Linked DNA regions of Homo sapiens. The protein of the gene in region 4 purifies or fractionates together with the protein of the main gene of each other region. This does not show direct contact. Each region holds a gene or a part of one and is shown on either strand. Other genes may lie near its edges.

Evidence for each region.
Region 1: the proteins of RNASEH2B (region 4) and KCTD3 purify together in Homo sapiens (affinity purification with mass spectrometry; one large-scale study listed by BioGRID and IntAct). This does not show direct contact.
Region 2: the proteins of RNASEH2B (region 4) and TNRC6B purify together in Homo sapiens (affinity purification with mass spectrometry; one large-scale study listed by BioGRID and IntAct). This does not show direct contact.
Region 3: the proteins of RNASEH2B (region 4) and HERPUD2 purify together in Homo sapiens (affinity purification with mass spectrometry; one large-scale study listed by BioGRID and IntAct). This does not show direct contact.
Region 5: the proteins of RNASEH2B (region 4) and PSMD5 purify together in Homo sapiens (affinity purification with mass spectrometry; one large-scale study listed by BioGRID and IntAct). This does not show direct contact.
Region 6: the proteins of RNASEH2B (region 4) and C1orf52 purify together in Homo sapiens (affinity purification with mass spectrometry; one large-scale study listed by BioGRID and IntAct). This does not show direct contact.
Region 7: the proteins of RNASEH2B (region 4) and FOXM1 purify together in Homo sapiens (affinity purification with mass spectrometry; one large-scale study listed by BioGRID and IntAct). This does not show direct contact.

The regions. Positions count from the first base shown.
Region 1 is NC_000001.11:215,601,804-215,605,303, forward strand, and holds part of KCTD3 (BTB/POZ domain-containing protein KCTD3), read left to right. Parts: intron 1-63; coding exon 64-151; intron 152-281; coding exon 282-398; intron 399-2,328; coding exon 2,329-2,499; intron 2,500-3,500. UniProt on the Homo sapiens protein: Accessory subunit of potassium/sodium hyperpolarization-activated cyclic nucleotide-gated channel 3 (HCN3) up-regulating its cell-surface expression and current density without affecting its voltage dependence and kinetics.
Region 2 is NC_000022.11:40,261,425-40,264,924, forward strand, and holds part of TNRC6B (trinucleotide repeat-containing gene 6B protein), read left to right. Parts: intron 1-407; coding exon 408-749; intron 750-3,263; coding exon 3,264-3,500.
Region 3 is NC_000007.14:35,639,636-35,643,135, reverse strand, and holds part of HERPUD2 (homocysteine-responsive endoplasmic reticulum-resident ubiquitin-like domain member 2 protein), read left to right. Parts: intron 1-3,500. UniProt on the Homo sapiens protein: Could be involved in the unfolded protein response (UPR) pathway.
Region 4 is NC_000013.11:50,916,291-50,919,790, forward strand, and holds part of RNASEH2B (ribonuclease H2 subunit B), read left to right. Parts: intron 1-3,500. UniProt on the Homo sapiens protein: Non catalytic subunit of RNase H2, an endonuclease that specifically degrades the RNA of RNA:DNA hybrids. Participates in DNA replication, possibly by mediating the removal of lagging-strand Okazaki fragment RNA primers during DNA replication.
Region 5 is NC_000009.12:120,840,123-120,844,048, reverse strand, and holds the start of PSMD5 (26S proteasome non-ATPase regulatory subunit 5), read left to right. Parts: upstream 1-1,126; 5' UTR 1,127-1,139; coding exon 1,140-1,312; intron 1,313-3,926. UniProt on the Homo sapiens protein: Acts as a chaperone during the assembly of the 26S proteasome, specifically of the base subcomplex of the PA700/19S regulatory complex (RC).
Region 6 is NC_000001.11:85,249,663-85,253,162, reverse strand, and holds the end of C1orf52 (UPF0690 protein C1orf52), read left to right. Parts: intron 1-460; coding exon 461-534; 3' UTR 535-3,210; downstream 3,211-3,500.
Region 7 is NC_000012.12:2,863,675-2,867,174, reverse strand, and holds part of FOXM1 (forkhead box protein M1), read left to right. Parts: intron 1-653; coding exon 654-782; intron 783-1,775; coding exon 1,776-1,820; intron 1,821-2,229; coding exon of another isoform or gene 2,230-2,290; intron 2,291-2,419; coding exon of another isoform or gene 2,420-2,422; coding exon 2,423-2,492; intron 2,493-2,679; coding exon 2,680-2,855; intron 2,856-3,500. UniProt on the Homo sapiens protein: Transcription factor regulating the expression of cell cycle genes essential for DNA replication and mitosis. Plays a role in the control of cell proliferation. Also plays a role in DNA break repair, participating in the DNA damage checkpoint response.

The DNA.
Region 1 (3,500 bases), on a different chromosome or scaffold from region 4:
ATTGACCAGAAAATAGAAATTATAATTACTATCTAACATCTGATAATACTCTCACTACATCAGGTTCAAGATGTTGTTCCTATAACTAGTTATGACACTGCTGGATCATTCCTTCTGCTTGGATGTAACAATGGATCAATATATTACATAGGTAAGTGTTCAGTCACTTAAAATGCTCCTGCTTAATGTAATTTTTTAAATGAGAACAAGAAAACATTACCTTTCAGTTTTAAATAGATATGCTATTTATTTTAATGCTGTTTAAAATTTTTATGTTTTAGATATGCAGAAGTTCCCCTTGCGAATGAAAGATAATGATCTTCTTGTAACTGAACTGTATCATGATCCTTCAAATGATGCTATTACTGCTCTGAGTGTTTACCTCACACCCAAAACAAGTTAGTACATGGCCAATTATATACATTCTTGACTTTTTATCTTTTTATTCATTAGTTTATTATGTGACTAGGTCAAATTAAACTGGTTTATTTCTTTTTGAGAACTGCAGTGCCTAAGGATTTCATCTCTACTAAGTCTAAAATTTGTATTCAGTTTTATACTGAAGTCAAACATGACCAGTAAACAAACATAATTTGAGGTGGAAAATTGGAACTCCCCTTACGCTGAATTGCATTTGTTGAGCCATATTATTATAATGTTAGCTGAAATTTCAAAAAAAAAAAAAATTCTGCACATTTGTCTTCCTATTAAAATAACTAATTTTTCACTTAAAAATTAGGAGCTTTTTAAAAAATAAAAAGTTCTTAGACTACTGCTGGAAACTAAGCTTATTTTCTTGGGAATTTAAAAATTTAAGCTGTAGAAAAAAGGCATTTTATAACTTTCAGTGCATTTTAGAGGCCATTGCAATAAAAGTAACAGACTAGTTCTGTAAAGTAGTAAGAATTTTTGTATTCTGGAGTAAAAGATAAGCACAAATGGGAAATTTAAAATTTATCTGTAATGAAAGGAGTTCTAAGAAACAATTTGTATTCAGTAATACTAATAGGTTTGGATGTGCTACTTATATAAGTCATCATTTCATTTAAGTTATTAAAAGAAACCATAATTTTTAGTATGAAAGAAATATTCAAGAGTATACCTATGAATTTGACTGAAACCATAGTAGGACTTAAATTGTATTGCTCTAGAAATAGGGTTTAGTAAACCACGGATTTCTAGCCAAGCTGGCTCTTTTTGATACCACTGTCTTTGGATGTTTTTATGCCACAATGACAGAATTGAGAGGTTGTGACAGAGACAGTGTGGCATGCAGAGTTTAAAATGTTTACTACTTGGCCCCTTACGGAAAGTGTACCAACCCCTGCTCTAGAATGAGCTGTGGATTTTTTTTTTAAATCTAGTTAAAAGGCAGGCATAAAACTGGGAAAGTTTTACAAATCAAAGCACTTCTTTTGTAGTGGCAGGGGGATTTTAAGGCATGAAAAATGGAGTCATCTTTCTGGTTCTAGGAGGTGTTTTTCATGACATGCTTTTTTTCCTTTGATTCAAGTATTTTCAGATGAATCAGTTAGTAAAACTAGAACAGCCAGTAAAGCTAAGATGTTCTCTATCCATGAAGCTTTTAAGAGTATAGGTCACTGAATTTTTTCCTATCTAAATTTGCAATGGGGTCTGGGCACTTTTTGAAAAAAAGAAAACAAAAGACACAGCTGAACCTTAGATGATTAGAAGAAACAACATATTTTAAGTATGATGTAAGCAATGTAATGGGTATGTTTATTCCCTAGCACAGTGTTTTGAAACTTAAATAGTATATTTAATGCTTGATTATTTGAGAATGATTTAGTATTGTAGTTTAAGTAAAGCAGATGGTAATTCTAGGCTAGACATAATAAGGAATATTGCTTTTGGAATACTATGCTGTTTCAGTAGTGTTCTTGGCATGGCAGATTTATGAATTCTTTAAACTATGTTGAGTACCTGCGGTGTCTCAGGCACTCTGTGAGGTGACAGATAAAAAGATGATTATGATTCAGTCTTTGTCAATAAGGAATAGAAGTAGCTAGACATAGAAATAAGTACAGAATTAGTGTGTTATAATTACTGTGATAGAACCTAATAGTGCAAGGCAGGAGGTGAATAGTTACGTCTTGGAGTGAGGGTTAGGAAAAGATTTATCAAGGAAATAATGATTTTAAGATGACCGGAGAAGTCTTAAGATTTTTTTTTTTACTGAACTGGATTTGGGGCTGATATAAACAGTGAATCCAGCTCTGCCTATTTTATCATAGGGAAGCTTTGCGAGGGTAGCTTTTTTATTATCGTTCCATAATGTATCACCTGTCAACTCTTGACTTTATATAGGTGTCAGTGGTAACTGGATCGAGATCGCCTATGGTACGAGCTCTGGAGCAGTACGAGTGATTGTACAACACCCAGAGACAGTTGGGTCAGGTCCTCAGCTTTTTCAGACTTTCACAGTTCACCGAAGTCCCGTAACAAAAATCATGCTATCAGAGAAGCATCTTGTATCAGGTAAAATGATTTCATTATACTGGTAAGGAACTTGGCTCTGTGTGTTATTTTCATTAAAAGAATGAAAACGCAGTGTTTATGTGAGAAAAATATACTAAAAGAAGTACTAGAAAAGTTTAATGACTGAAGAAATTATGATTGTCTTTTAAAGATTTCTTTGAGCTGGTCGTGGTGGCTCATGCCTATAAATCCTAGCAGTTTAGGAGGCCAAGGCAGGTGGATTGGTTTAGCCCAGGAGTTGAAGACTAGCCTGGGCAACATGGTGAAACCCCACCTCTACCAAAAAAGAGGAAAACAAAAAAAAGATGTTTTTTATTTTACCTGGTTTTAATATACTTAAATTTAGGAGATGTGATTTTTTTTTTTTTTTTTGCTCTCTTGGCATATCTTATTGCAAAATATTTATTATGACCCTGCTAAGAGGAATTTTTATTAAATTTTTCAAGTTTTACTTTTAATATAAATTGGGTTGATTATATTATGGTTTAATGCTAAAACTGTAGATTTAAATGTGTATTTTGATATTTTGTCATCTCAAAAATAATAAAAATTACAATTGTAGAGATTATTTGAAGAAAATAAGCTTTTCTTGGGTTTGTAGTTCTTCATAATATAAAATTTTTAATTAAATATTAATTGGATACATAAAAAATTAAATACTAATTTTCAAGTTTAACGAATAGTACTTTCTGATTACAAAGTAAAATTCTATTGAAGAAATTCATTGTGTATGGAAGATGATTTCTAAAAGGCTTTGTGAAAATTGCATTGTGAGTTGGGTGTGTCAGTAAAGCTTGCTTTCTAGAGGAGTCTTACATTAACTCCTTTTGTAGAGCAGTTCTTGCCCAACTTAAAATTTTTACAAACATGGTTTTCATGTGTCAGATTTGTTTTTGTGAAGGCTGGCTAGAAGATAATGCATCTTTTGTGAAAGATGTAGTGAAAGTTTCTCAATCTAATTAAACACCATGTGGAGCTGAAATTCAGTCCATAGCTGAATG
Region 2 (3,500 bases), on a different chromosome or scaffold from region 4:
AAAATTAGCTGGTTTTGGTGGTGGGCGCCTGTAATCCGAGCTACTTGGGAGGCTGAGGCAGGAGAATTGCTTGAACCTGGGAGGCGGAGGTTGCAGTGAGCGGAGATTGCACCACTGCACTCCAGCCTGGGCGACACTCACACTGGGTGACAGTGTGAGACTCCGTCTCAAAAATAAATAAATAAATAAATAAATAATAATCTTGGCCAGGCACAGTGGCTCACTCTTGTAATTCTAGCACTTTGGAAAGCCAAGGTGGGAGAGTCCCTTGAGCCCGAGTTCAAGACCAGCATGGGCAACATGGCAAGACCCCATCTCTAAATAAAATAATAAAATTATTTTTAAAATTTTTAGAAAAAATGTATTTGATGTATTTCAAAGACTGTTTCCCAACCCCTCTCTTTTAGTGCCCGAAGTGACGAAACCAAGTTTAAGCCAACCAACGGCCGCCAGCCCAATTGGCAGCTCTCCATCGCCACCAGTCAATGGTGGCAACAATGCCAAAAGGGTGGCAGTGCCGAACGGACAACCGCCAAGCGCCGCCCGCTACATGCCTCGGGAGGTGCCGCCGCGATTCCGTTGCCAGCAGGACCACAAAGTGTTACTAAAACGTGGGCAGCCCCCTCCACCGTCCTGCATGCTCCTTGGGGGTGGGGCAGGGCCTCCTCCCTGCACAGCACCTGGAGCAAACCCAAACAACGCACAAGTGACAGGAGCGCTGCTGCAGAGTGAGAGTGGGACTGCGCCAGGTAAGGCACCCTGTGAATCGAATGCATGGCAGCTTGACAGAGAGAGAGCACTTTGTTTGCATTGCTTGATGTAAAGTCCAGGAAAGCCATTCATTATATAAACCACTGGGATTAGTCAAAAGATGAGAGAGGATCCTAGTATGCGATGTGTATTGGTGATTCTTGGAACTGAGGTTTAGTGTTCCGTAAGTGTGTGCTCTTGGCATAAGGGCTAACTTAACTGCTGTTGCTTATTATTTTGGGGGCCTTTTTTCCTTCTCAGACTAGAGTGTTACAAATTTGAGCCTCCATAGTTCCACCGTCATATGTGTTCAGGGCATAATTGGACATGGGGCTTGTGCGAAGGCGAATCTTTAGATGCCTGTGTTATGTTTCCAGAATGCTAGGAGGATAGAGAAAATGATTTGCTACATTGCAATATAGAATCTTCGGAGGATTCTAAAATAATACTATAGTTTTTAAATTAGATTTTTAAACTCAGTATTTCTTTTTGTGGGCCCTGGATTTTGAGCTTTGTTAAAAACTGTATGTAGAAATAAGGGATATTTAGCTGAAAGGTTCTACTAGAAGTTTTGAGAGTTTTTGGCCGGGCACGGTGGCTCACGCCTGTAATCCCAGCACTTTGGGAGGCCGAGGCGGGTGGATCACCAGGTCAGGAGATCGAGACCACCCTGGCTAACATGGTGAAACCCTGTCTCTACTAAAAATATAAAAAAATTAGCCAGGCATGGTGGCGGGCTCCTGTAGTCCCAGCTACTCGGGAGGCTGAGGCAGGAGAATGGCGTCAACCCAGGAGGCGGAGCTTGCAGTGAGCCGAGGTCGCGCCATTGCACTCCAGCCTGGGTGACAGAGCCAGACTCCGTCTTAAAAAAAAAAAAAAAAAAGTTGTGAGAGTTTTTAATAGATGAATACTAAGTCAACTAACAGCTAAGAAATTCTAAATATCTTTTAAAGTTTATTAACAGATTTCAACTTAAAATGTCTTTTGGGGTGATATTAAAATTCAGAGCTTGAATACCATTAGGCATTGGCAAAGATAATGAATTGATGGTTGTCACCAGTAGGATGCTTTATTTGAGTTCTGAGTTTAAACAAATAATTGCCTAGAAAATTTGGTCACCATCTTGCTGTGTGCAGAGTAAGGATGGAAAGAAACCTCGTGGTGACACAGACTTCCTGCAGAGATAAGCCCTACCCATGGCCTTTCCTTCCTGGCTCTCCAAACCAGCTGCAAAAGGAAGCATGTGAAGGGGCAGGCCCTGTCAGGCGGAGTTTCTGCAGCCGAGTGTAGCCAGGCCTAGGTGGAGACTGGGGTCCAGTGTGAGTCAGAGTCCACATTATTAAAACGGAGGAGGCCCCTAAATCTCGAGTTTCGGTTTCTATGCTTTTTATTTTTCTATGCCTCCGTATAATACTTTTTGAAACTTCAAATTGATTAAAAGCTGCCTGGTTAAAGAAGCCAAAATAAATTTAGAAGAAATGATCTCATTAAAAACATGTTTTTCCCACCAAATATGGTAAATTCCACCAAAATATATGGTGAGCCAGACTCATTTAACAGATTAAGTTCCTTGGGGTTGTGAACTCTGCCTAATTCATACTCATGTGACACCCCTGCCACCCTGGGCACCTAGCTCAGTGGCTCAGTGGGTATTCATCATTCAGCAGATGCTTACTCCGCAGCATTGTGCTGGCTGCTGTGTGGAATTCTAACGTTAGCAAGTTAGGGTCTCTGCCTAAAAGACGCTAACATGGGGAAGGAAAGTTGTGAACATGGTGCCACAGCACTGAGCAAAATGGCTCTAGACAGGGAAAGATTATTTTCAGGTGATGAGCTTGAAAACAGCTTCGCAGATGAAATGACACTTGAATTGGGCCCAGAAGGATGAGTAAATTTCACTGTGTGAATTCAGCAGGAAAACACAGTAGGTGCCAACGTGAAATGGTGCCAGAGTGAGAAGGCACAAGTTGTGGAATGTCAAGTAGTATCGAATATTGACATCTACATAGGAGGTAGTAGAAGATAAGACTAGAAAAGTTGGTTGGTCCCAGGTCATGGAACATCTTGATGACATTCGAGGCCAAGGAGTTCAGCTTTATTCTTGTGCACTAAGGAACTGTTGAAGGTTCTCCATACAGCAGTGATATAATCAAAAGTGTGCTTTAGAAAGATTGCTCCAGCCAGGGGTGTTTAGAGTAGGTTGAAGATACAGAGCAAGTTTAGAGTGCCATTGCTATTGCCTTGTCCCAAGATACAAGAAGGCCCTTCTCTGTCAATAGGAATGGCAAAGGACGTAGCTTTGAGAGAGATGAAGTTAGACTTAACCGGTGTAACACAAGGCAAATGAAAAAAAAGAGATGACTAAGACAGTTGTGATACAAGCAACTGGGTTGAGAGAAACTGGCATGTGATCAGCTCTCCTAAGGGCAGAGCTCAAAGGAGAGCCCCTTTGAGGGATTAATGGGTAATGAATGCATTTGAAGCTGTGATTAATAAGATGATCTGTTCCCCAGACTCAACCCTTGGAGGTGCTGCTGCTTCAAATTATGCAAATTCCACTTGGGGCTCGGGAGCCTCCTCCAACAACGGCACCTCCCCCAACCCAATTCACATCTGGGACAAGGTGATTGTAGACGGGTCTGACATGGAAGAGTGGCCTTGTATTGCCAGCAAAGACACTGAATCTTCTTCCGAAAACACCACCGATAACAACAGTGCCTCGAACCCTGGCTCTGAGAAGAGCACTCTGC
Region 3 (3,500 bases), on a different chromosome or scaffold from region 4:
GTCTCCAGTTTCTCTCTATTATTAGAGGACAGCAGGCTGGAAGTGGGAGTATGTATAAAGGTTTTATTAAAGGGCAGAGATGTGAAGTTTTTTTCCATATTTCATATTTCTATAAGCTAATTTTCAAAAATAGAATTACTTGGGCAGTTGGGCATAAGAGCAAAGCTTTTTGAAAAACTTTTGGGTTCACGGGTACACGGTCAGATTTGTTACATAGGTAAACTCGTGTCATGGAGGTTTGTTTTACAGATTATTTGGTCACCCAGGTACTAAGCCTAGTACCCAGTAGTTATTTTTTCTGATACTCTCCCTCCTCCCACCCTCCACTCTCAAGTACGCTGAAGTGTCTGTTATTCTCCTCTTTGTGTCCATGTGTTCTCATCATTTAGCTCCCACTAATAAGTGAGAACATGCGGTATTTGGTTTTCTGTTCGTGCGTTAGTTTCCTAAGGATAATGACCTCCAGCTCCATCCATGTTCCCGCAAAAGACATGATCTCATTTTCTTTTATGACTGTTTAGTGTTCCATGGTGTATATGTACTTTTTCTTTATCCAATCTGTCATTGATGAGCATTGAGGTTGATTCTGTGTCTTTGCTATTGTGAATAGTGCTGTATGAACATTCACATGCATATGTCTTTATGATAGAATGATTTATATTTCTTTGGGTATATACCCAGTAATGGAATTGCTGGGTCAAATGGTAGTTCTGTTTTTAGCTCTTTGAGGAATCACCACTCTGCTTTCCACAATGGTTGAACTAATTTACACTCCCACCAACAGTGTAGAAGTGTTCACTTTTCTCTGCAACCTTGCCAGCATCTGTTATTTTTTAACTTTTTAATAGTAGCTATTCTGACTGGTGTGATATGGTATCTCATTATGGTTTTGATTTGCATTTCTGTAGTGATCAGTGATGTTGAGCTTTTTTTCATTTGCTTGTTGGCCACATGTATATCTTCTTTTGAAAAGTGTGTGTTCATGTCCTTTGCCCACTTTTTAAATGTTTTTCTATTCTTTTAAAATTGTTTAAGTTCTTTATAGATGCTAGATATTAGACCTTTGTCTGATGTATAGTTTGCAAATATTTTCTTCCATTCTGTAGGGTATTTGTTTACTCTGGTGATAGTTTCTTTTGCTGTGCAGAAGCTCTTAAGTTTAATTAGATCCCATGTGTCAATTTTTGCTTTTGTTGCAATTGCTTTGGCATCTTTGTCATGAAATCTTTCCCCATTCCTGTGTCCAGAATGGTATTGCCTAGGTTGTCTTACAGGATTTTTATAGTTTTGAGTTTTACATGTAAGTCTTTAAACCATCTTGAGTTGATTTTTTGTCTGTGATGTAAGGAAGGTGGGTCCAGTTTCAATCCTCTGCATATGACTAGCCAATTATCCTAGCACCATTTATTGAATAGTTTTCCCATTGCTTGTTTTTTGTTAGCTTTATCAAAGATCAGACAGTTGTAGGTGTGCAGCCTTATTTCCGGGCTATTTTGTTCCATTGGTCTGTGTGTCTGTTTTTGTACCAGTACTGTGCTGGTTTGGTTACTGTAGACCTGCAGTAGTTTGAAGTCAGGTAACATGATGCCTCCATCTTTCTTCCTTTTGCCTGGGATTGCCTTGGCTATTCAGGCTCTTTTTTGGTTCCATAAGGATTTTAAAATAGTTTTTTCTAGTTCTGTGAAAAATGTCATTGGTAGTTTCATAGGGATTGCATTGAATCTACAAATTGCCTTGGATAATATGGCCATTTTAATGATATTGATTCTTCTTATCCATGAGCTAGAATTTTTTTTCCATAGAGCAAAACATTTTTAAAGGTCTTTAATTTTGTAATTGTGTTTTAACGGCTTATTCCAATTTATACTGCCACTAGCAATCAAAGAGTTAGGTTTTACCTGTACCTCTTGCCAATAATGGATATTTTTATTTAATCTTTTCTACCTTGGCAAACAAACTTAAAAAAGCTATCTTTGCTTTAATTAATAGTTGATATCCTAATGATTATTCTATCAGTTCTTTATATAGAAAACATATTAACTACAATTTATTGCAACATTTCTTAGCCATTTCTCTTTAAATTTTGTTGTCAAATATGTTGATTTTTTTTCTTCTTTCTTCTGTTACTTAAGTTAGGAAAGTCCTTCCTCCAAAGGGTTGGTAAATAATTCTAGTTTCTTCTAGGCTATCTGTGGTTTCACTCTTAATACTTTATTTCAGCTCTGTTATTTGAATATACAGAATGAGATGAAGCTTTTAAACTCCTTTTCCCCACAGATTTGATCATCTTTTTCCCTAGCATTAAATAACAGTTCTCTTTAACTTGTTGTTTAATGATGCATCCTCTAACATATATTAAATTCTTAAGTAATGTGTTTCATTGTATCTATTCCTATATATTTTATTAATAACTTTATAATTTAGCATCAGATCCTTTATTCCTTGTTTCTGGAGAATACCAAATGCATACCATCTTGTCTGAGGGTAATGAACACAACTGAAAATTATAGTATGTCCTCTTGGGCCTGGGATGTATTTGGCAATTATATCGTCCAGTAGTTTTCTAACTTATTAGGGAAAAAGGGAAGAATACTTGGGGAGGTTATTTATTTATTTTGGCAACATATTTTCAACAATCACCTTATATTCTCCATATGTTTTGGGCAGCATGCAGGAGGGTGACATGGGAAGCTATAACTTTTTAAAAAAGTAATGGTTAGTGGCTTTTCTCCCTTGAGCTTTAAAAACAGTGACAAACTCCAGCCTTCCCATTTTACAGTTGAAGTAACAGACTTGTTTGACATTCTTATTAATGATAGAGATTGGTGGAGATTTACTTTCAAGGGGATGGGTTTTTTCATAATGGGAAATACTAATAAAATTTAAAATATACATCTAGATACAGCATATTGCTGTAATACTTGATTTAGGTAGTTTTATAGATTTGCTCAGAGATGCATCAGCTCCCTGGTGTAAATGCTGAGTTGTACAAAACAAATGTTTTTAAAATACTTCTCTGCCTCAGTGGTATGGCTTTCTCTCCAGAGTTGCTCACTAACTGACATCTTTTTAAAGGAATAACTGGGTTGAGGTTTGCTTTTTTTGAGGTGGGGAGGTGCTGTGTCATCTGTTGTCCTGTGTCCAAGAGAGCTGAAGTTTTTTCCCCCTTATATAGGACCCTATATGAAGGAAATATATATAAAATATTAGGAGATTGAAGGGTCTTTTGAGGATGGGACCCTATGTGGCTGCCACTGCTCCATCAAGAATAAGGAAAGTTCAGGTAATATGTGGGGAAGGTGATGCCTTACCTAGCACCACGTTTCTTTAAGTATAGCCTGTTGATAAGGCTTAGCTCCCCAGGCTCTTCTAAGTTAGGTTTCTATAATCAATTATTACCAATTGTATGTGTAAACAGTCTTTAGAATATAAAATTATAGCTAATGAATTTATTCTTGTCTCACTCTGGATAGACCAAACTAGTATCAGCTAAAGATAAA
Region 4 (3,500 bases):
ACTCAGGGAGATTGGGGTTACATAAAAGTTTATATGGTGCTGTTCTACATAAAATTGGAGAAAGTTCAGTTGATTTAATAGAGGTAGGGGCTGTTTTTTTCCTCTTAATTTTGATAAGGACAGAAACTCACACAGTGATATGAAACAAGTTGACAAAGAGAATTTGTATTTTAGGCTTTGAACATTGAAGAGGTGTAATACTTATTGCTTCAGACAGTAGACAGTACATATTTGGAATGGGTTATCTTTGAAAGTGGATAAAGATTGAAAATACAAATAGGTGCAAAAGAGGTAAAGATACATTTACAGAGCTGTATTGGACCCAATGGCAAACTAGGATGTTTCAAAAGCCATTCAAAGCAGGTTACATTTTTGAGGACAACCATAGCCTCCTGCAAACATCCCTTGGTGTGCTTTCCTGAAACCGGATACTGGTTTGAATAGCCTGTGAGTCTGCCTTAGTATGGAAATTGCCATTTTTTAATGTGGGGTCAGTGCACCTGGGTTGTGTGTTACAAAATCAAACATGAACTTCTTTGGGAGTTCCTTAGCAGGTTCACATCCTCCCAGGAAGGAGCAGGGGTGGTGGAGAGCATAGGACATCTGGCCCTAGGGTGTTGCAGCAGCAGGAGTCCAGGGTTTCTGCCTCTCTGAGTGTTAACTTCCTCTTCTCAAACTAACTTCCTGCATTTAGTGAAAAACTGGTTTCACGTGATTCCCAAGCTGCAGATCCCCCCAGTGTCTGCTGGGAGGGGTCTCTCCTCTTAGTTCCAGTTTGAAACCTTTCAAAACAGCCTTCTGACTGGTCCTGCTGTGGTCACATGCAGTCCCACCCTCCACCACCTATTGTAGCCAGGGAGGGGCAGGCTGTAAGCACAAGGTGGGAGAGGAGGAGGACAAAGTGGGCACTTGAGGCTAAAGAGTGCTTTTCTGGAAGAAGGAAAGGGTACAGGATAGACAGCAGAGGAACTAGCTACCACGTCGTTTCACCAGTGGGACTCTGAGCTCTGGCCAGAAACCTCAGCCACTCATGAGCTGTCTTGCCTATGGCCAACATTAGGGGTTTCTCAGTTGCTGGTAGTCTGTTTGACTGGCTTGTATATAGGTATAGCAGAGGTTTATTTGTATGGAGAATTGGGTTCTAGTTGTAACTTGTACTTGCCTTCATTTAGTCAAAGTTTGTATAATTTTTAGGAAGCCCAGCTTCTAGGCCTGCAACTTCTAGCTGTTATAACTTTGCAAAACACTTTCATATAATTGTATTTGACCCTCTTGATGACCTTGGGAAGCAGTTAAGGCAGGCTTTATTATCACCATTTTGCATATCAGGAAACCAAGACTCAGAGAAGTCAAGTAATCTGTCAACATACAATAGAAATCCAGTGGCAGAGACTGTCAGCTCTCTCAAGTCCTTTTCCAGGACTCCTGCATGTGCCAGAGGCCACTCTGCTGACTGAATAATGATGCCTCACCACTGTGGGAGAGGCCAGAGGACCAGGAAAGGCTGGTCTCAAACTGCTCTCAGTTTGATGACTAGGGACCAGACATACCTCCTTCCCTGGAACCAAACCTGGTTGCTCTCAGTCACCCCAATCAGGTCTGTCTTTTCTAGCACTCCACAATTTTTCCTGCTTCCCACATAGTTCATGCTCCATCCATGCTCCATCTCAGTATGTTTGCTGGTCTTTGTGGCTCTGAGTTGGCTGTGAACCTGAATATTTTTACTAGCTTCTTCACCAGTGCACAGGCTGTTCCTAGAAACATGGTTGTTGATAGGGACAGCCCTGAAAGAATGGAGATTTTGTCTTCTATGGTCCTGCTGAAGGCTAGTTTCTAATTTTTATATTTATTTATTTATTTATTTAGAGACAGAGTCTCACTCTGTCGCCCAGGCTGGAGTGCAGTGGCACGATCTCGGCTCACTGCAAGCTCCGCCTCCCAGGTTCACGCCATTCTCCTGCCTCAGCCTCCCGAGTAGCTGGGACTACAGGCACCCGCCACCATGCCCAGCTAATTTTTTGTATTTTTAGTAGACACGGGGTTTCACTGTGTTAACCAGGATGGTCTCGATCTCCTGACGTCGTGATCCGCCCGCCTCGGCCTCCCAAAGTGTTGGGATTACAGGCGTGAGCCACTGCGCCCGGCCTCTAATTTTTATTTTTTTCTCCAAAGCTTCAAAAGAAAGTTACACTTAGAGGAATCTATTACTTCAGTAATCACATAATTTTCCTGGTGCATGTCTCTCTTGCTTTCTTGGTTTGCCTCTTGTAGTCTTTGAAGAAACAAAGAGCTTCAAAGCCAGGAAAATGACCCAGATCTCTTTGACAGCAGTGCTAATGTTTTGGGAAGTGAAGGCATATAGTTATTACTGAAATTAGTGTTCCTGGAAGCTGCAAGTTACTTGAAAATTATGCTGATTTGTCTTGCATGCATTGTATTTGTGTCCTACCAAAGTGTTTCCAAGGAAGTATCTGGCAAACAGGCAGGAGGGTGCCGGGGCAGTGGGACGGGGAGGGTCTGAATATATTCTGATGGCTGAAGTCTAAAGAAAATGAACTGGAACCTATTTAGGACATCGTATTGCATAAGCATGAGAGTGATAATCTCATCTCTCTTTTTCTTTTTTCTATTGGATCTTCTTAAGAAACCTGAATAGCCTTGATATGATATCTAAAAATAAAGTAAATGGTGCTTTGATGTCTGTACTTTCTCCTCCATGTAACAGTGGGTGTATGTTTCTCAGAGTTTATCTCCTGTGTGCCAAAAATCAGAGAGGCTCAGGAACAAGTGTCCATTGCTTCCAAGTCATAAGAACAATTGGCAAAAATCACTTGTCTTGTGTCTTTGAACTTTAAATGCAGTGAAAAAACTTGTCTTAACCAAGAGAGGGATAAGAAAGAGCTGCCAAGTTTGAAAAACCTGCTGATAAATAACTTCATACCAACTGTACAACAACCTGTACTATATAGTCTGTAGATGAAAAATCATGTACCATTTTGGCTTGTACAATACTTTGTGGCTAACTTTAAAAAATACGGAATGGTTAAGTCTGTGCATTAATACGTGCTGTGTAACCTAACTTCTCAGCATTATAATGTCACAGATATCTGGGGGTGGTGGGGAGAAGTATATGCAGCTATGTATAGAATATACACAGCTCTCCCTCCTTTCTCTTCCTTCTGCCCCCTGGCTGTGTGGTCTACTGGCTGGATTGCAATAGCTGGATTGCAGCTGGTTAGATGACTCTGCTGGTTTTTGAGGATGAGGAGGACAGGACAAGAGAGGGAAAATTTTAAATGTTTATATCATAGGAGAATAGTCATGTCAGAATCATTGTGTTTCCAAGCTGCAGTTTGTGCTTTTTAAGTTAAGAGGTATGGGACTTCAGATTAAGAGTTTCTTTACAGTATTATAGTTTAAAACATTGGCTCTGGATAATAGTTGACTGAGTTTAAATCCTGGCTCTATAGTTGACTTGCACTCTGACCTTCAGGCAGGTT
Region 5 (3,926 bases), on a different chromosome or scaffold from region 4:
TACTTATTTGGGTTGTCCTCCCCAGATGTTTCCCATTGGTTCCCTGTAGATGTATTTGGCCTGGTTGCAGAGGGCCTTCCGGGTCAGATGCCGCCCTCTGTCATCTGGCCTTCCACCTAAAAGGTTAACTGGGTCTCCACCTTCACGATGTTTACATTACAGGGGAATACACAGCAGCTTAGAGCAGATGGGCGACCAACTCTCCACGCTGGTCTTTCTTGGTTTCCTGAGGGTAGTGGAGGACAAGAGGGGAAAGCAGGGTCTTGCTCTGTCGCCCAGGCTGGAGTGCAGTGGCACAATCACCGCTCACTGAAGCCTCGACCTCCTAGACTTAGGGGACCCTCCCGCTTCAGCCTCCCGAGTAGCTGGGACTACAGGTGCGTGCCACCACACCGCACTAATTTTTTTCCTTTTTTTTTTTTTTTCTTTTTGGTAGAGACGGGTTTCTCACTATGTTGCCCAGGCTGGTCTCGAACTCCCGGGCTCAAGCGATCCTCCCGCCGCGGCCTCCCAAAGCGCTGGGATTACAGGTACGGCCACTGCGACCAGCTGCTTCTCCTTGGTGGACTGATCAACACCAACAAGGCGGCGCACGTCCCTATTACTCACGCCTTCGTCAGGCTCCTGGAGAATATTCATCCAGTCTTCCAGAGGCATGACGCTCCGCCTCCTCTTGACAGGTGGCTGGCCCAGGATCAAGATTCCCCTCCAGGCCACCGCTCCACCTGGGGAGGCCTCAGCCGCGGCCGTAGCCGCGGTGGCCTCCATAACGGCTGCAGTCGTCCCCGCCTAGAGCCTGGTTTTGGAGCCTCGAGGACGCCGACGAGGCTGTTTAACTTCCCGTGAGTCCCCACCCTCGCCGCTCCGCTGGCCGGGAATTTGGCAAGGCTTTGCCCTACGCGGTAAACACGTAAGCCTACTGGCCTCCGCATTTCCCTGAGCAGCGACCTAGATGACGCCAGACTGAGGGAGCCGCAACCACTGGCTACAGTTGACACGGCCCTAACGGAGGCTTCTCGCGAGGCTTGGCAGCCCCATAGCCATCTCAGGGACAAGGAGGCTGTGATCAGATCTCGCGAGGTTCAGGAAAGCGCCCCGGGAACTGGGCCGCTGGGCCAGCCCCTGCGTCGGGGGGCAAGATGGCAGCCCAGGCTTTGGCGCTGCTGAGAGAGGTAGCGAGGCTGGAAGCGCCGCTGGAGGAGCTACGCGCGCTTCACTCCGTGCTGCAGGCAGTGCCGCTCAACGAGCTTCGCCAGCAAGCGGCGGAGCTGCGCCTCGGCCCGCTCTTCTCCCTGCTTAACGAGAACCATAGGTGAGAGGACCCCGGGGGCTTGAGCCGAGGAGAGGGGCACCCCTAAATATGGACATGAGAGTGGTTGAGGGCAAGAACAGCGCTTTTCCCAGTCACAGGGGAGGTGGAAAGTAGCCGAAATTTGCAGAGAAGGAAGGATCCTGGGTTCAGAGGCAGGAGATGGGGTTCAGGTTCAGCCTCTGAGAGTGCCCCAGGGTGTTTTCTCCCGTCGCCTGGCCTCGCTGCCTCTGAGCAGTGAGGCACTGCCTTCTTCATCAAATAGAAATTAAAGGAGGAAAGCAAAGCTGTCCACTTACAAGGAGCATTCCACATCTCTTTGTACAGGTTCTTGATTTGTTTCCCCTTCTAAAAGGATCCTATCCTGGCAATGTGGCAAGAACCATCAGCATTTTAAATTCACATGCTTTTTCATCCAGTCATTCTTGTTAAAAAAATTTAATGCAAGTATACGCGCACAAAATGTGCAGTTACTTTGTTCTTTCGAACCCGAGGCTGGAATCGCCCCAAAAGCAGCGGCAAGAGAGTTCCCACGAGGGAGTGCTTCAAACCTTCCCGAGATGTGGCTGGTTGGGATGACAGAAAAAGAAGCACTGAATGCCAAGGCGATCAGTCCAAAAGCGTTTAGGGGGAAACCTGCAGAGGGCTGCAGAAATTGTCAAGACGGACACCGGGAGAAAGGTGTTCCTGGGTATGTCCGCAGTGAGGGGGTCAGGGTATGGAGTTCAGATGAGAGTTTAAAGGAATTTGGCTCAGGGTTGAGGCCAGTTTCTTCCAGTGTTTTGGGCAACAACCTAGGTACCTTTATCAGGCCTGTGAATGTTCAAGGCCCCTGGTTTATGGTCAAGCCTGCTAGGGAAACCTGCCGCTGGCTAGGTCAGAGAGCAATCAAGGCACTCTGATTTTCCATCAGGACAGAGAAAGAAAGGGGGCGACTGGAGGACCCTACAACATTATATGCAAGAATATAACATATCGTGTGTGGCACCAGAACACTAGAAACAATCTAAATATCCGTTAACAGAGGATTCCAAATTATGCGCTATTACTCTGTAACACTGTGCAGTTATTTAAGTTATTGAGGTAGATGTATATATATGTATGTGGACATGGAAAGATCTCTGTGTTTTGTTTTGTTTTGTTTTGTTTGTTTGTTTGTTTTCAGACGAGTCTCGCTCTGTCTCCCAGGTTGGAGTGCAGTGGCGCGATCTCGGCTCACTGCAACCTCCGCCTCCCTGATTCACGCCATTCTCCTGCCTCAGCCTGCCGAGTACCTGGGACTACAGGCGCCCGCCACCACGCCCGGCTAATTTTTTGTATTTTTAGTAGAGACGGGGTTTCACCATGTTAGCCAGGATGGTCTCGATCTACGGACCTCGTGATCCGCCCGCCTCGGCCTCCCAAAGTGCTGGGATTACAGGCGTGAGCCACTGCGCCCGGCCAATCTCTGTGTTGTTGAATGAAAAAGAAAATCGCAGGGTATATCAATCTATAATTTTAACCTGTAATTTTTAAAAAGGATTACAATCTTCCCAACCCCCACAGGCATGTAAAACTTGTATAACATTGCAAATATCTGCAAAGGTACACCAGAAACTATTAATAGGGAAGTGGGTCTGAAAATAGTAGGACAACTTTTATTTTTGATTTTTTACACATCCGTAGTGTTTGATTAAAAACACTTTGTAGGCCCGGTGCAGTGGCTCACGCCTGTATTCCCAACACTTTGGGAGGCTGAGGCGGGCAGATCACCAGGTCAAGAGATCGAGACCATCCTGGCCAACATGGTGAAACTCCGTCTCTACTAAAAATACAAAAGTTAGGCCAGGCACGGTGGCTCACGCCTGTAATCCCAGCACTTTGGGAGGCCGAGGCGGGTGGATCACAAGGTCAAGAGTTCGAGACCAACCCGGCCAACATAGTGAAACCCTGTCTCTACTAAAAATACAAAAATTAGCCGGGCATGGTGGCACGTGCCTGTAGTCCCAGCTACTCTGGAGGCTGAGGCAGGAGAATCTCTTGAACCTGGGAGGCAGAGGTTGCGGTGAGACGAGATCGCTCCACTGCACTTCAGCCTGGGCAACAGAGTGAGATTCCGTCTCAAAAAAAAAAAAAAAAAAGCAAAAATTAGCTGGGCTTGGTAGCGCACACCTGTAGTCCCAGCTAGTTGGGAGGCTGAGGCAGGACAATCACTTGAACCTGAGAGGTGGAGGTTGCAGTGAGCCAAGATTGCACCACTGCACTCCAGCCTGGCAACACAGTGAGACTCCATCTCAAGATAATAATAATAATATAATAATAATAATAAAAACACTTTGTAGACCGGGAGCAGTGGCTCACACGTGTAATCCTAACACTTTGGGAGGCTGAGGCGGGTGGATCGCTTGAGCTTTGGAGTTTGAGACCAGCCTGAGCAACATGGTGAAACCCTGTCTCTACAAAACAAAACAAAAAATTAACTGGGCGTGCGTGCCTATAGTCCCAGCTACTTAGAGGGCTGAGGGGGAGGATCCCTTGAGCCCAGGAGGCAGAGGTTGCAGTGAGCCAAGATTGCACCACTGCACTCCAGCCTGGGTGACAGAGTGAGGCCCTTTTTTTTTTTTTTTTTTTTTTGAGA
Region 6 (3,500 bases), on a different chromosome or scaffold from region 4:
GGTTGGGCCAATAAAGCCCCTTCATCATCCTTCTTTTCTGCTTATCACTAGAGACAGAAACTAAAAACCATGGCTTCAGGCTGCTAAAAGCCTAAAACAAAACAGAACAACAACAACAAATAAGGCAGGTTGGACAAGCTTGCTGAGTATTTGGGAGCCTTTTTCAAAAGTCTGATTTGGGGGAAGTAAAGTCACTTATTTTAAGCTACCTTAGTATAGCACCTAAAGAGTTACTTTGTGAATTTTGTATGGCTGCAATTGAAAAAAAAAATTGCTCACTTTCACTTGCATTTAAAAATCAGAGCTCTAAAAGTTAATTCTTGTTTTTTATTGGGAAACTCTGAGAGAAACATTAATTGATGAGGGTAATAATTTTGGTATAAAGCCAGTGAAATTTTAATGCTTAACATGTTGGGTTTTTTAAAATTACTGATTGAAACTCTTCCTTTTCTATTTAAAGATGATGAAAAAGATGAGCATACTTCTAAAAAGCGCAAAGTAGAGCCAGGAGAACCAGCAAAGAAGAAAAAGTAGAAACAAATGACCAGAATTTCTGTACTGCTAAACTTGTTGAAATGTTTCTTTGGACAGATTAAGTTGATATTGTGGGTTATTATGCCACATCTCCATGAAAATGCATACGTTAATGAACTAATAAGTATTGCCTCAAGAACTTTCCACTATAGAATTCTTTTTTTATTTAAAACATGTATGTATTTAAAACTCAACTGGTGACTTGTGATTGTGAAATTGATAACACTTGGATGCATTCTTGCTCTCACAGAATTGGTGACATGCTTTGAGAGTTTTGTCACATGTTGACATGCCAATGTTCTTATAAACCTTTTATAAAGGAATATATTTTTAAAGTAAATATATTGTAATGTACTGTGAACTTGTAGGGTGCTTTTCAACAGTCTTTGTACAGTGTAAATAGATCATGGAAATAAAATTACTTATTCAATATTACTATTACTGTATAACATTAACATTTGAATGTTTGTCTGTGACAAGTACCCTATTTGTCGTGTGACATTTTAAGTTGTAATAAGAAGTATTACCATTTAAAGAGTGCCTCCTGTGTTCCAGGTGCTTTGTGCATATATTTTCTCTGATCCTTAAACAACCTAGCGCAAGGTATTATTAGTATTCTCATTTTATAATAAAGAGTGCTTGAGTAGCTTGTCTGATGTTACACAGCTAGTGAGTGGTTCATTTGGAATTTAACTTGGGACACTTGAACCTCAAAATCATCACATTAAACCACCTGTCCACCAGTCAAAATTTAGTCATCTTTCAGGAATGACATCAATTGTCATCTCTTCCAGGTACTTTTTTCTGTTGTACCTGGAGATCCGTTAGTAGAGATCTTTTCCTCTCCTGATTGGATGACTGTACTTGTCATCTGTGCTTTATGGTTATTCATTAATTTCTTTATTAAATTGTAAGTTTACAGGACATTCAGTTAAATTTGAATTTCAGATAAATAATGTTTTAGTATATTTAATATTCAGGACATATACAAAAAATGTGTTTATCTGAAATTCAAATTTAACTGAACATCTTTTATCTGGTAACCCTACTTCTACATGTTTTCTCTACCCAGCTTCTATTTTAATGCTTTGCGTATAGTAATAATAAAATGAACAAGAAGTAGTTGGGAAGGTGTGATCGTTGAGTTCCAAAATGCAGTTATTTGTAGCATTTTGAACAATAAAAAGGTTACACTCTGCATCAATCTTTCCATGAATCTGAAGCCCTTAAGAGATAAGAATTACAGAACAGTGCACATTCAGTGTATAAGAACAAGACAGCCAAGCATGGTGGCTTATGCTTGTAATCCCAGCACTTTGGGAGGCCAAGGTGGGAGGATAGCTTGAGGCCAAGAGTTGGAGACCAGCCTAGACAACATGATAAGACCTCATCTTTACAAAAAATAATTTAGAAAGAAAAAGACATAATCTAAGTATTTTTTTTTAAATCTGTTTTTCCCCATTGTGGAAGATAAAATTTGAACAATTACGCGAGATTTGTTTACCTAGGCATGTGTATCAAGTAGATTAAAATTCATAAAAGTCATTAAGAGTGATTGCATCAGCCATGGTGCTTTGTGGAATGAAGGTCCATAACAGCATGATGGCTTCCAGTATATCATCGAGTTTAGAAAAACCAATTCTATAGCTGCCCATCCTCCAGGTTTGCAAATATATGAATCCCAAAATTGAAGTAATTGCTAAAGCAAGAATATGTTTTTTTAAGATTGTAGTCTTTGTAATGAATTTGGAAATCTGTGGTATCATATACTAAGGAGTGGCATCAAGTGACAAAGCAAGACCATAGTATGTACATGACACCAAACACAACCAAATCAAGTTATATTTGTGAAGTTGTGATTCCCAAGCTCTGGAGAAATCTAAAATTTGGATGCATGTGTTGGTGGAGCAAATATCTCAGAAGTTACTGAAATATTGCAAGGTTCTTAAGTTAGCATGAAAGCAAACTTTTTTCTCTCTTTCCTGGGAGATGTGCAGAGTATGTTGTATGAGGAGGAAGACAGGACTTAGGGAAGAGGCTAAATATTTTGGAGCAAGTCTGACTCAGCCATTTGTATCTCCTGGTTGGAAAACGGACTGTCATATCACTCTACATTCATCATCACATTAGAGAATAGATTATTTTCCCCTTTAGAGATGTCCTGGGAACGTGTTTGCACAAGTGTCCATGTGGGTACTGAGGTGAAGTTTGGTTGAGCTAGTGGAAACCTAGTGGGGAAAAGTCTTAAAAATCCATATACATAAGAAAAATCATCTGTCCAAGTATCTTTCATTTTAGAGAATCGAGTCACTTGATACTTCTGATTGTTTCCTGCACTTTAAGTTAAGCCTGGGCAACATGTTGAGATCCTGATCTGGTTTGGCTGTGTCCCCAACCAAATCTCACTTGAATTGTAATTCCCACAATTCCCACGTGTCATGGGTGGTGACTGAATTATGGGGGTGGGTCTTTCCGGTGCTGTTCTTATGATAGTGAATGAGTCTTACGAGATCTGATGGTTTTAAAAACCATCAGTGCAGGGAGTTGCCCTGCACAAGCTCTCTGCCTGCTGCCCTCCACATAAGATGTGTCTTGCTCCTCTTGCCTTCTGCCATGATTGTGAGGCTTCCTCAGCCATGTGGAACTGTAAGTCCAATTAAACCTGTTTCTTGCAAATTGCCCAGTCTCTGGTATGTCTTTATCAGCAGCATGAAAATGGACTAATACAGTTAATTTGTACCAGTAGAGTGGGGTACTGCTGAAAAGATACCCAAAAACGTGGAAGTGACTTTGGAACTGAGTACAAGGCAGAGCTTGGAATGTTTGGAGGGCTCAGAAGAAGACAGGAAAATATGGGACAGTTTGGAACTCCCTAGAGGCTTGTTGAATGGCTTTGACCAAAATGCTGATAATGATATGAACAATGAAATCCAGGCTGAGGTGGTCTCAGATGGAGATGAGGAACT
Region 7 (3,500 bases), on a different chromosome or scaffold from region 4:
CTAGTTTCTTGTTTGTTTGTTTGAGACGGGGCCTCACTCTGTCACCCAGGCTGGAGTGCAGTGACATGATCTTGGCTAACTTCAACCTCTGCCTCCCAGGTTCAAGTGATTCCCCTGCCTCAGCCTCCCGAGTAGCTGGGACTAAAGGCATGCGCCACCATGCCTGGCTAATTTTTATATTTTTGATAGAGACAGGGTTTCACCATGTTTGCTAGGCTGGTCTCAAACTCCTGGCCTCAAGTGATCCACTCACCTTGGCCTCCCACAGTGCTGGGATTATAGGCGTGAGCCACCACGCCGGGCCTAATTCCCTAGTTTCTTAATTTCTCTGAGCCACCTTTCTTGCTATTGATCACTACCTCACAGCCTTACTCTGCTTTTCTAGCCCCTGACAGCTATCTAGGTCTTTTCTTTATCACAATCTAAGGTTGGCATCAGTCTTTATTCCCGTAGAATAGATGGGTTTATGGCTGAAGGTGACGGCTCTGCGGTGTGGAGTGTCAGGAGAGTTGCCAAGAGGGCTGCAAAGACACCAGACGAAGCCTGTGCTGAGCACAGTGGGAGGGGCCTGAGGCTGGTTTCCCCATGTGTTTGAAGGGTGATGTTTCTGAATCTAAAGTAGCTGATAACCAGTTGTCTTGCTCTTCTTCCAGAACTCCATCCGCCACAACCTTTCCCTGCACGACATGTTTGTCCGGGAGACGTCTGCCAATGGCAAGGTCTCCTTCTGGACCATTCACCCCAGTGCCAACCGCTACTTGACATTGGACCAGGTGTTTAAGGTGAATGCCCTGCTTTCCTCTAAATAGGGCCTAAGTTGGAGGTTGTCATAGCCATCTCAAAAGGAAACAAGTTCTGCTAGTGATGCTTTCATTTGATCAGGGGAGAGTTAGAAGCCAGCCACCCAATTAGTGACTTGCACAAAACCCAGTGAATTAAGTACACTTGACAAATACCAAATGACACATTTTTGTGCCAGACCAGAGCAAGGAGAAGGCTGTTCTGACCCAACAGAAAGGGCTCCCCAGGGCAGTGTTTTCCTAACTTCCCTGTGAATGGGAATTGCCTGGGACATTGTTAAAACACAGCTTCCCAGACCCCTCTCTTGGGGCTCTTGATTTAGTGCTTCTGGGATGGGCCCAGGAATTTGTATTTTTAGCAAGCATCTCAGGTGATTCTTACAAGAAATTCTGGGAATGCTTGCTCTAAAAAAAGCCCTTCCTGCTGGGTGTGGTGGCTCACGTCTGTAATCCCAGCACTTTGGGAGGCTGAGGCAGGTGGATCACCTAAGGTCGGGAGTTGGAGACCAGCCTGACCAACATGGAGAAACTCCGTCTCTACTAAAAATACAAAAATTAGCTGGGTGTGGTGGCGCATGCCTGTAATCCCAGCTACTTGGGAGGCTGAGGCAGGAGAATCCCTTGAACCCAGGAGGCGGTGGTTGTGGAGAGCTGAAATCGCACCATTGCACTCCAGCCTGGGCAATAAGAGTGAAAGTCTGTCTCAAAAAAAAAAAAAAAAAAAAAAAAAAGCCTGCCTTAGGCTGGAGACCAGAAGCTGAGCTACCAGAACGTCTTTTCAGAAAGAAGTTATTTTGGTTTTTCAGAGTGCCCATAAGGCTGCTGGTAGCTGTAACCATTCTCCTGGGAGGGGCAGTTGTCTGGGGTGTCTTTTGTCATCAGTCAGGAATAAGTGTTTTTCCCAATCCGGTCAAATTGACCACGTTGGTGGTAACTTCATCTCATTTCTCTCCCACAATGCCTGGCCGCCACCAGCCACTGGACCCAGGGTCTCCACAATTGCCCGAGCACTTGGAATCAGTAAGGTTCTTTCCCTCTGGCTCGGGGCTTGGCCTTGTTTTCCTTTCACTGCTCAGCATGGCTTTAGTGGACAGAGACAAGATGTGATGTGGGGAAGGGTCCCTATGGCCATGTTTTGTCTAGGTGCCAGCCCTAGACACAGAACACCCTGAGGGTCAGGCACACACCCACTTCCCTCCCCTTCCATGGGCATCACAAGGGCACACTGAGCAGAGCAGGGCACAGCAGGGGAGCATGCTGCAGCAGCCACAAGCGCATGGCACCAGCCTCAGGGGCGGCAGTTCGTTCGCTCACTTTTGTGCCTAGCTTTTCTTTGCCACGCATATAGCTACCTGCTCTGGCATCCCCCAGGGGTGTTGAGGACACGTGGGTGAAGCGGTAGTGCCACTCTGCCATCATGTGTCTGTAGGCCACCCACCTGCCCACTCATCACAGTTTTGGAGACTGCTCGCCTACGTCCATCCCCTCAGGTTGGCCTCCTCTCTCTGGGCTGTCATTAACTCAAGCACACACCACCAGAGCAGCTGGTGGGGTTTTGCCATCCCCTCTTTACCTTATTGTGTTAACATAGGTTTCTTTCTCTCCCCATCTGCCACAAGCAGCAGCAGAAACGACCGAATCCAGAGCTCCGCCGGAACATGACCATCAAAACCGAACTCCCCCTGGGCGCACGTTAGTATGGGAGAGTGGGCCTTGGGCCTGGTCCTTGTTCTGGGGCCATATCTTTAGGGAACCAGACTCTGGGATTCTGTTCCCACCTCAAAGGGATCTGAGCCCAGAGAAGGAGAGCAAAGCTCCTGGGGCTGAGAAGGGGTGTACTCCAGTCCCCCTGCTCCTGATCTCTCGTGTTTCCTCCTAGGGCGGAAGATGAAGCCACTGCTACCACGGGTCAGCTCATACCTGGTACCTATCCAGTTCCCGGTGAACCAGTCACTGGTGTTGCAGCCCTCGGTGAAGGTGCCATTGCCCCTGGCGGCTTCCCTCATGAGCTCAGAGCTTGCCCGCCATAGCAAGCGAGTCCGCATTGCCCCCAAGGTGGGTGTCCTATTTTCCTCTGAAGAGAGATTCTGGCCAATTAAGAATGTTGGACCTTCAGCTTGCAAAGCACTCTGATAAGTGTTCCTTGAGAGCTTATAAATCTAGTTGGGTAGAAAAGGCATAAAAACATAGGGAAGTGTAATAGCATTAGAAGAGCTAAAAAGGTATTTGGATTACAATGTAAGTGGTGTCAGAAGGCCCATAAATACCTGATGAGCTTGTAAGAATTCAGACAAAAGTGATTGTGATAGATGGGCTAGGATTATTAAGGAAGATACACAAGGGAGGCAGGCCTTAGAAAGAGATGGATTTGGCCGGGCGCTGTGGCTTACACCTGTAATCCCAGCACTTTGGGAGGCCAAGGCAGGTGGATCATGAGGTCAGGAGTTTGAGACCAGCCTGGCCAACGTGGCGAAACCCCGTCTCTACTAAAAAATACAAAAATTAGCTGGGCTTGGTGGCACATGCCTGTAATCCCAGCTACTTGGGAGGCTGAGGCTGGAGAATCACATGAGCCCAGGAAGGGAAGTTGCAGTGAGCCGAGATCACTGCACTCCAGCCTGGGTGACAGAGCGAGACTCTGTCTCAAAAAAAAAAAAAGAAAAGAAAGAAGTGGATTTGAGGCTAGACGCTGTGGGTCTC